Linked DNA regions of Homo sapiens. The protein of the gene in region 1 interacts with the protein of each later gene in a pairwise test. Each region holds a gene or a part of one and is shown on either strand. Other genes may lie near its edges.

Region 1 (3,655 bases):
ACAGTTCTGGTATCTCTGGACTCGGTCGAACCCCAGGACTGGAGTTTCGGTGAGGAGGAAGATGGGAAGAGTCCAAGGTCCCAGAAAGAACCATCGCAGGTGAGCCCGGGGCCCCCAGCTCCGTGCTCCTGCACCCCAGGGCATGCGTGCCGCTTCTGGGACGGCCTCAAGGATGCCCCATCCAAGGACTGTGTGAGGTTGTCCCCAGCGCTCCCAGGAAGCCCGGCCTCCAAACTCCCCGCCTGCCCCACAGATTCCCCAAGCTTCCTGGGGCTCAGTGCTGGGCGAGGGCAGTCAGTGCAGCTGTGTGTTTGCTGTGTGCCTCTGGGCCTCACCCCAGCCCCTCCTGTCCTTTCCCAGCCTCGCAGTTAAGACCCATCCTCCTGTGTCACCCGCACCAGATGCTGCGTGTGTTGAGAAAGTCCTGCTGCCCCGATCATCTTCCCTCAGTGAACCCAGGATTCTGGGCGGGCCCAGAAGGAAATGCTGAGGGCTCCCCTGCAGCTAGACCTGCTGTTGCGCAGGCCTCAAGGCGACGGGAGGGGCCCGGCTCGGTTGGGAGCCAAGCGGATCTCTGTGTGGCTGGAGAGATTAAAATCAGGGGTGGGGACACGCAGACACATGAGAGAAATCCAGGGGTAATGGGTAAATCACAAAAGAACAAAAGTAAGAACTGCTAAGTGAGTAGCATGTGTTCGTATGATCAGGGCTACTGAGTTTGACCACTTTCTGCCTCTGGATCTTGGTATTGGAGCCGCCAAGGGAAACACAGCACGGTCGAACAATGAATGGAGCAAGGTTTTGCTCACAGACCAGAGACCGGGCCAGAGCACCATCTGCCCATGTGGCTGTCAGGCCGGGGCCAGCAGGTCCCTCCTAGAGGGGTCCTGACCTAACAGTGGGGCTGTCTAGGTGCCACGTGAAGCACACGCCTGAGCAGAACAAAGGGGCACACATTGGGAAACAGAGACCTCCACACGAGGCACTACACCCAGCACAAACTGGGGGGACCCCTTATCTCTTGGTAAGGAGATGTTCTAGGCCCAGGACCCACTCTCAGGCAGCCAAGTAACAGGCTGAAAGACTGCACATGTGTGTCTCCCACTGGCTTAGTCCGTTCTGGGTGCTGTAACAAAATACGGCTGGGTGTGGTGGCTCATCCCGGTAATCCCAGCACTTTGAGTGAGGCCTCACGGGAGGCTGAGGTGGGAGGACCACTTGGTCCCAGGAGTTCAAGAGCAGCCTGGGCAACATGGCAAGACCCCATGTCTTAAAAAAAAATGAGCCAGGTGTAGGGGTGTGCACCTGTAGTCTTAGCAACTCTGGAGGCTGAGGTAGGAGGATCACTTGAGCCCAGGAGTTCAAGGCTGTAGTAAGCTATGATCATGTTTCTACACTCCAGCCTGGATGACAGAGTGAGACCCTAACTCAAAAAACATCAACAGCCGGGCACAGTGGCTCACGCATGTAATCCCAGCACTTTGGGAGGCTGAGGCAGGCGGATCACAAGTTCAGGAGTTCAAGGAAGAAGGAAGTAACTTGTGGAATGCTGAGAAAGGTAAAAACACCTTCAAATAAGGAAGAGGAACAGGCTATGACCTAATGCTTGCTTGGACCAGTATAGGCACACCAGGGCAAATATTTAGGCTAAATTGTGGGAGCTAAGAACATAAAGTACATTGATTTTTTTTATTATGGCTAGCAGATATATAAGAATGTTAGCACAGGTCTTTGAATAAATTTTGCTTCTAAGAGAAGTTACTATTTATTCCTAATTAGATGGGGAGGAAAGTCTTTGAAGAGGAACTTCTACTTTACTTTTTTTTTTTTTTAATGGAGTCTTGCTCTGTAGCCCAGGCTGGAGTGCAGTGGCGCGATCTCGGCTCACTGCAAGCTCTGCCTCCCGGGTTCACGCCATTCTCCTGCCTCAGCCTCCGGAGTAGCTGGGACTACAGGCGCCCGCCACCTCCCCGGCTAATTTTTTTTGTATTTTTAGTAGAGACGGGGTTTCACCGTGTTCACCAGGATGGTCTCGATCTCCTGACCTCGTGATCCACCCGCCTCGGCCTCCTGAAGTGCGTGAGCCATCGCGCCCGGCCCTAAAATAGATTTAAAGATCATCATGAGAGCCCCTCTCCTGCACCAAAACAAAGTTTCGTGGGCCGTGGTTTCTGTTTCTGCATCTAACGGAGGCATCTAACCTGGGTAGACCACAGTTGTTGGCCACGGGCTTCCTCAGCCGCTGCCGGCAGATGTGCTTATCTGACTCCCTCTCCCATCCCAGACGCCACGTGGAAACCACAGCCGCGCTCACAGGCCATCCCCTCACCACACGGCAACTCCAAGGACTCTCTTTTTGCGGGGGTCGTAGGTGGGGAAGGCTGCTGAGGTCCTCCCACCCCTCTCCCACCAGGGCCGCTGTGGCTGAGAGGATCCTCGTTGGCGCTGGTTTAGGCTGTGGGGCTCAGCCACAGCAGGGTGCCCCAACGTCCCTGAGCGAGCTGCACTTGTGGAGGGAGAGGCCTTAGGCCTGAGGCCTGGCGCCCGCGTGGAGAGACGGCAGCTCCGGGATCGGGGCGCTGGTGAGCGCGGCCCCAGGCATTGCCGCTGCCAGGGTGCTAACACTGCCTGAGGCACCTCTGCTTTTGAAGTCGCCGGGGATTAGCGGGAGCGTAGGTGAGGGACAGGTGGAGCTGCTCTGCGCGGGGCAGCCCGGCTCGCCAGGAGGCGCTGTGGAGTGGGCACGACTGGCGATCGCTGAGCGCATACAACCGCCTACCATCGGAAGCCTTTTGAGAAATGCTTCCTTAGGCGGTTTCGTCACCGTGCATACATCGCAGAGGGCACTCACACACCTACACGCACAGCCCATGGCTCCTAGGCTACAGACCTGCACAGCACGGGGCTGCACTGAATACTGTGGGCAACGGTAACACAATGTTGTTTGTGGATTTAAACATAGAAAAGGTACAGTAAAAATACAAAATAGAAGATAAAAAACAGTACACTTGTATAAAGCACTTGCCAGGAAGGGAGCTTGTGAGACTGGAAGTTGCTCTGGGTGAGTCTGAGTGGTGAGTGAATGTGAAGGCCTGGGAGGTTATTGTGCTGTGGACTTCATAAACATGGTGCACTTAGGCTACTAAATTGGCAACTATATTTCCTTCTTCAATATAATTTATCTTACTGTAAGTTTTTGCTTTACATTTTTTTTTTCTTTCTTAGACTGACTCTCACTCTGTCACCCAGGCTGGAGTGCAGTGGCACGATCATGGCTCACCGCAACCTCAACCTTCTGGGCTCATGCGATCTTCCTACCTGAGTCTTCTGAGTAGCTGGGAACACAGGCACACATTACCGCACCGGCTAATTTTTATATGTTTTAAAATTTTTTTAGTTTTTGTGTAGATGGGGTTTCACTATGTTGCCCAGGCTGGTCTCAAACTCCTAGGCTCAAGCGATCCTCCCTCCTCAGCCACCCAAAGTGCTGGAATTACAGGCGTGAGCCACTGTGCCTGGCGTAAAAAACTTTCTGACTCTTGGGGCCGGGCGCGGTGGCTCACGCCTGTAATCCCAGCACTTTGGGAGGCCGCGGCGGGCGGATCACTAGAGGTCAGGCCTTCGAGACCAGCGTGGCCAACATGGTGGAACCTCG
Region 2 (2,896 bases), on another chromosome or scaffold:
GCTTGAGGGTAAAAAAGAAGCAGCCCATATATCTAAACTACAGGATGTCTTGAACAAGATTCACAGAAAGAAAGAAAAAAAAGCAGTTCTTTCCAGGAAGGTGGTAAGGAAGAGCATGCATATTTCTTGTTTTAACCAAATACCTTTTTTATGTAAATGTCTCTATTAAACCCCAGGTCCTACACCAGGAAATAGGGTGATAACCAGGAAAATACCAAGCTTTAACCCAGTTGGCAGTTCCTTGTGGCATACATTTGGTTAGACTTGGGTTTTTCCTGGAACCAAAGGAAAATAAGCATGTTGAGTTCTTCGTTCAACAGACATGACATTGAAGTAATAGAATATTTTTTAAGTAAAATAGTTTTCACTTTCAAAGCCTATGACATAAGGACATTTGTGCTTATTAATTGTTAATTTTTTTTTATGGTACATTGTATAAACTGAGTAGCATTGAACTGCATTTTAGAAGTATGTCATCAGAAACAAATCACATTATGGAAAGGATATACAAATGCCAAGTGATATGACTCTTTTGGCATGGTGGTAGCATGGTCCATTCAGCTTTCAGAATCTTTCGGAGGCTCTAGTTTGGTGCCTAGTACTAGTTATTTTTGTTAGAACAATCTCTCAAAATTTAGATAATTTTCCAGTTGTATGTCTGTCACTTTTAACTCTAAAGCGTAAGAATCATGGTAACCCTCTCAGAAGTGGTCCTTTCTTGCTCATTTCAGTTTCGTATTAACTTCAAATCACTGATGTATTGTCTTTCAAGCTATCAATTGTTATATGTACCAATTTAATTTAGTTTGTAGTTATCTGAAGTCACAAAATTGGTTCAGCATTGATGTCAAACAATGGCTTTGCTTCTTACCAAACAGACTTAGTATCCTGCTGCTTGTTTCAATCTTGATGCAGTAAGTGATGCAGTATCTGGGTCTGTATTTACTTAGAAACTGTACTGTCCTTTCTCTGTGCTTAACTTGCTAAAAATATATTCCCTTACCTGTGAAATTCCTGAGCGGTGCTCTGCCAACTTTTCAAGGGGAGGGATTTGGATGGCTGTGTTACTGCACACTGGATCTGGAATTGTTCAGGGTTATGAGTGACAAATTTCTTAAACACCAGCAGCACTGAGATGTGCACTATGGGCATTCGTACAGTTGTTGTCCAAATGCAAACAACTTTTTCATCTTGGAGAAGCTGAGATACAGAGTTCAATAGAACTACTTGGAATATTTTGAGAAGGTTGAATGTTTCATCTTTGGCTTTGTTGTCTCTGGAGTGGGGAAGTATGGAGGGCTTTTTTTTTTTTTTTTTTTTTTTTTTTTTTTTTTTTTAAAGAGAGTGTGTATGTACTTTTTCTCTCTATAAGGGCCAGGGTGTTGGTCAAATTCACCATCGATTAATTTATATCTTCTGTTGTGATTTTTTTCAACTATATAACAAGTGCCAACTAATTGTCCATGGGACAATCTACTTTTCCACTCAATTTATCGTTTTGAGTAGGGAAAGGTTCATTTATTTTCATTACCTGGCATTAAGTTAAAGAATTCATTATTTTGCATACATTTGAGTCATTCTGTGACCTATAAAGTGTTTTTGTAACTATCTAATTCTAATGGTTGCAAAGCAAAGCACATGACTGTAAAACCAAGCAAGGTGTTTTAGTAACTTTTTCCCTGAATACTTGGTAGTTTCCATTGATACTATTCCAAAACAAATTCTGCTGTTTTAGGTTGTATATTTACTTTGCTTTTGTTCTAAGAAAAAGCCAAGGACTAAATCAACTTGTTTTTGTGTTTCAGTAATCAGTTTAAAATCTAAGATTTTTTTTTAAATTAGACTATTTAATGAAGTGCCATGTAATTGTAGCTTGCTAGTGTTTAATGTTTAATAGACTGGTTCTGTAGGTGTTTTAACCATTTAACACTCTCTGCCATCCCTGGAGAAAGTGGTTCTACTCTTACTGAACACATTCTCTCTGACAAAATCACCAGCTGCTTTATTTTTCTATTTATTACAGTTAAACAGTTGATGAGGTCTGAATCTTGACCAAAACTGCTCAGCTGAGATGTTTTTCACAATAGACACTGTACAAAGTGTGCGTGCAAAAGGACACGGTTGGTAGTATTTTTTCATTAATGTGAACATTGACTAAAAAAAAGCAGTCCTGCCTTTTAAATCTTGTGGCAGCTCAGAAGGGAGGTGCTTAAGAACCTTAACTACTATGTCAGATAACAAAATATTTTTTTCCATTTTGGAGATTGGTTACTGCTCACACATGATGTATAGGGCTAAATATATGCTTGTTTCCTTGCACCTGTGTACTTCCCCTCTCTCCCTCCCTTTCCTTCCCCTGTAGGCAATAAATGGCCATTTTGCAACTGCATACCTTTGTCTTGGTTTTTGACTCTTTATTTGTGCAGTATAAACCTCTGCTTTTAGGTTGATACGTCTCTTCTAAAGTGAAGTAGGGAGCCAAGATAATTCAGGGCAAAATACATAATTACAAATTCATGCTACATTTTTTTTTCTGGTGAAAACTACATTACTAAGTACATTGTTTAAAAAAAATTCTGAAGCTAGTTATATGACTTGCTTTGCCCGAAGAAACCAGTGCAAAGGGATATATGTCACTTCTGAGTGGAACTTTAAGGGCCAGTCTTTAATTTGCCATATTTCCTTTTCTTGCCTGTGTGATCATAGAAGTATATGTTGAGATGAAACCTCTCATTCCAGATCCTTAAGTGACTTTGTTGAAGAGAACTCCCCTGCTGTCCTTTGGGCATGTAGCGTAATAAACAACTGCTAAATCTCAGTGTGTTAATACAATAAAGTTGTGTTATTAGGGCTTAATTTAGTTGATCCTGACTGACAGACAACCACCAGACAGATT
Region 3 (3,655 bases), on another chromosome or scaffold:
GGAAGCATCCTATATATTTCATTAATGGTGATTAAGTAAAGTGTGTGATACAAGTGTAGAATGGAGTATTAAATTGCCTTAAAAAATGAAGTGTTCTGTATCTGTAAGATAAAGAATGAATCACCAAAATACATAAAATGACAAAACTGGCTGGGCATGTTGGCTCACGCCTGTAATCCCAGCACTTTGGGAGGCTGAGGCGGACAGATCACCTGAGGTCAGGAGTTTGAGACCAGCCTGGTCAACATGGTGAAACACCGTCTCTACTAAAAATACAAAAATTAGCTGGGTGTGGTGGCGTGCGCCTGTAATCTCAGCTACTTGGGAGGCTGAGGCAAAAGAATTGCTTGAACCCGGGAGGCGGAGGTTGCAGTGAGCCAATATCGTGCCATTGCACTCCAGCTTGGGCAACGAGTGAAACTCTGTCTCAAAAAAAAAAAAATTCAAAACTCAGTTGTATATTTTTATGCACATATGTGTACAATATCTCTTAAAGGACATATAAGAGACTGTTGTTTGCCTCTGGGAAGGGAATTGGGGTCTGCAGGGGAAGGGGTGGCAGGGAGAGTTTCTCTTCTCTGCATATTCTTTTTTTTTTTTTTTCTTTAACAACACTCTGTAGTCCAGTGCTGCATATTCTTGTAGCTTTTGAAGTTTAATATCTGTTACATAATTTTCTACAGAGCAGCAGTTTTTGAGCAATTGTTATTTTGTTTTTGTCTCATCCCATTGCTCCTCAACCTGGGTCAGATGGAGCAGCCTCTTCAGTAAGCACGAAACATGCTCTCATCATGGATGAAGTAGATGGCATGGCAGGCAATGAGGATAGGGGAGGAATTCAGGTAATTCAAGTGCTGTATTTTTGCAGTTTCACTGTTGATAATTTAGATTGTTAGAACATTGTCATTCTCTCATACTTAGGGCAGTTAAGGCATGTTGCTGAGGAGATTTTTAGAACCTAAAATAGCTTGTGTGGTATTTGTCATTTTTAAAATAATTATTTTTGTGTTGCAAACTTGCCTTTCAGGAATTAATTGGCCTGATAAAACATACTAAAATTCCCATTATTTGTATGTGCAATGATAGAAATCATCCCAAGATTCGCTCTCTGGTTCATTATTGTTTTGATCTTCGTTTTCAAAGACCTCGGGTTGAACAGATTAAGGTATGATGATTGAAATTTTTTTTCCATCACACTAGCCTATTTATTTAAGGGTCAATTTTTAAAAGTACCTGATAAATATTTTTAAAATACCTGATTATATGAGTTAAAAATCATTGAGGACTCCTCCCTTGTCAATTTCAGGGTGCTATGATGTCTATTGCATTTAAAGAAGGTTTAAAGATTCCCCCTCCAGCTATGAATGAAATAATTTTGGGAGCCAATCAAGATATCAGACAGGTAAATTAAATATATATCATGTAACAGTTGTTGATTATTTTTAACTAATGCTTTCAACCTTGTAGGGATGGGGAGCAACAGGATTTTCCTATCTTGACGTTGTCTTATTTGTGATTCTTTTAGGTTTTACATAATCTGAGTATGTGGTGTGCACGAAGTAAAGCATTAACCTATGACCAGGCCAAAGCTGATTCTCACAGAGCCAAAAAGGATATCAAAATGGTAAAATAAATGTCCATGTCTTAGTTACTTTCCTAAGCCAAAACACTTCTTGTTCTGTAGGTAGCTTGATAGAAGTAGTTATTATAGTTCCTTGGTATGCCTGTGGAATCCAGGGATATATAGTAGGAAGTATAGACAGCTGCTGAAAGTGTTTCTAATTCAAATGATTTTTTTCTCAAAGATTGTCAATGTCAATTATAAATTTTGAGAAAGGGATAAATTTTAAATTATACTTATGCTTCAACAATTATAAAATGGCTTTTCCAGAGTTCTTTATGTTTGGCTTTCGTGTTTGGAATGGTTTTGCACTGTTCAGAATAATCCATGTCAAATGGTTTAGTTTAATGACCTCTCTGAAACTAGAGGTATGTATCAGTTTCCTCTGTGTTGTATTTTACCTAGTTGCTAATCAGAATTTATAGTTAGAGCAATGATTAAGCAGGTTCTAAAAAAGTTAATACACTTTCTTATTTATTTAAATTTTCAAAATTTTTGGTAGAGACAGGGTCTCGCTATGTTTCCCCGACTGGTCTTGAATTCCTGGCCTCAAGTGATCCTCCTGCTGTGGCCCCCAAGGTGCCGGGATTATAGGTGTGAGCCACCACGTCTGGCCTATACGCTTTATTTTTTAGAGCAGTTGAGGCTCAGGAGTTTGAGACCAGCCTGGCCAACATGGTGATCCATGCCTGGCCTATGGATTAAAAATGGAGTGGAAGGTACAGAGAGTTCTCACATACTTCATGTCCCCCTCACACGCACAGCCTCTCCCACTGCCAACATCCCCCACCACAGTGGTATATCTGTTACAATCGATGAACCTACAGTGATACCTCATTATCACCCAGAGTCCGTAGTTGACATTAGCATTCCCTCTTGGTGTTGTACGTTGTGTGGTTTTGACAAATGACATGTATTCACCATTGTAGTATCATACAGAATAGTTTCACTGTCCTGAACATCCTCTGTGCTCTACCTGTTCATTCTTCCTTTCCGCTTTCCTCCCTACAACCCCTGGCAGCCACTGATCCTTTCACTGTGTCCATAGTTTTGCCTTTTCCAGAATGTGGTATAGTTGGAATCATGTAGTATGTGGACTTTTCCAGTTGGCTTTTTTCACGTAGTAATGGCATATAAGGTTCTTCCATAACTTTTTTGTTTTTGTTTTTGTTTTTTTTGGTTTTTTTTTTTTCGGAGTCTTGCTTTGTCACCCAGGCTGGAGTACAGTGGTGTGATCTTGGCACACTGTAGCCTCTGCCTCCCGGGTTCATGTGATTCTCTTGCCTCAGGCTTCTGAGTAGCTCGGGTTACAGGCACCTGCCACCACACCTGGCCAATTTTTTATTTTTAGTAGAGACGAGGTTTTACTATGTTGGCCAGGCTGGTCTCGAACTCCTGACCTCAAGTGATCCGCCCACCTCAGCCTCCCAAAGTGCTCGGATTACAGGGGTGAGCCACCATGCCCTGCCCCCCCATGTCTTTTCATGGCTTGATAGCTCACTTCTTTTTAATGTTGAATAATATTACATTGTGTGAATGTACCACAGTTAAATTGTTTATTTACCTACTAAAAGGACATCTTGGTTGCTTACAACTTTTGGTAATTATAAATAAAACTGCTTGTAAACATCCTGTGCAGATTTTTGTGTGAACATAGTTTCATTTGGGTGAATACCAAGAAGCGTGGTTGCTGGATCGCGTGGTAAGAGTATGTTTAATTTTGTAAGAAACTACCAAACGGTACAGTTTTGCATTCCCACCAGCAATGAATGGAATTCCTCTTGTTCCATATCCTCGTTAGCATTTGGTGATGTTACCGTTTTGAATTTTGGCCATTCTAATAGGTGTGTCCCTCTCTTTTTTCAGGGCCCATTTGATGTTGCCCGGAAAGTGTTTGCAGCTGGAGAGGAGACTGCTCACATGTCACTTGTGGACAAGTCAGATCTCTTTTTTCATGATTATTCAATAGCACCCCTCTTCGTCCAGGAAAATTACATACACGTGAAGCCTGTAGCAGCAGGGTGAGTGTCCAGA

Evidence for each region.
Region 2: the proteins of ZSCAN1 (region 1) and CNOT6L interact in a two-hybrid assay, tested with the Homo sapiens proteins (one large-scale study listed by BioGRID and IntAct).
Region 3: the proteins of ZSCAN1 (region 1) and RFC1 interact in a two-hybrid assay, tested with the Homo sapiens proteins (one large-scale study listed by BioGRID and IntAct).

The regions. Positions count from the first base shown.
Region 1 is NC_000019.10:58,040,446-58,044,100, forward strand, and holds part of ZSCAN1 (zinc finger and SCAN domain-containing protein 1), read left to right. Parts: intron 1-4; coding exon 5-99; intron 100-3,655. UniProt on the Homo sapiens protein: May be involved in transcriptional regulation.
Region 2 is NC_000004.12:77,712,880-77,715,775, reverse strand, and holds the end of CNOT6L (CCR4-NOT transcription complex subunit 6-like), read left to right. Parts: 3' UTR 1-2,389; downstream 2,390-2,896. UniProt on the Homo sapiens protein: Has 3'-5' poly(A) exoribonuclease activity for synthetic poly(A) RNA substrate.
Region 3 is NC_000004.12:39,300,247-39,303,901, reverse strand, and holds part of RFC1 (replication factor C subunit 1), read left to right. Parts: intron 1-750; coding exon 751-842; intron 843-1,027; coding exon 1,028-1,165; intron 1,166-1,306; coding exon 1,307-1,402; intron 1,403-1,525; coding exon 1,526-1,624; intron 1,625-3,487; coding exon 3,488-3,642; intron 3,643-3,655. UniProt on the Homo sapiens protein: Subunit of the replication factor C (RFC) complex which acts during elongation of primed DNA templates by DNA polymerases delta and epsilon, and is necessary for ATP-dependent loading of proliferating cell nuclear antigen (PCNA) onto primed DNA.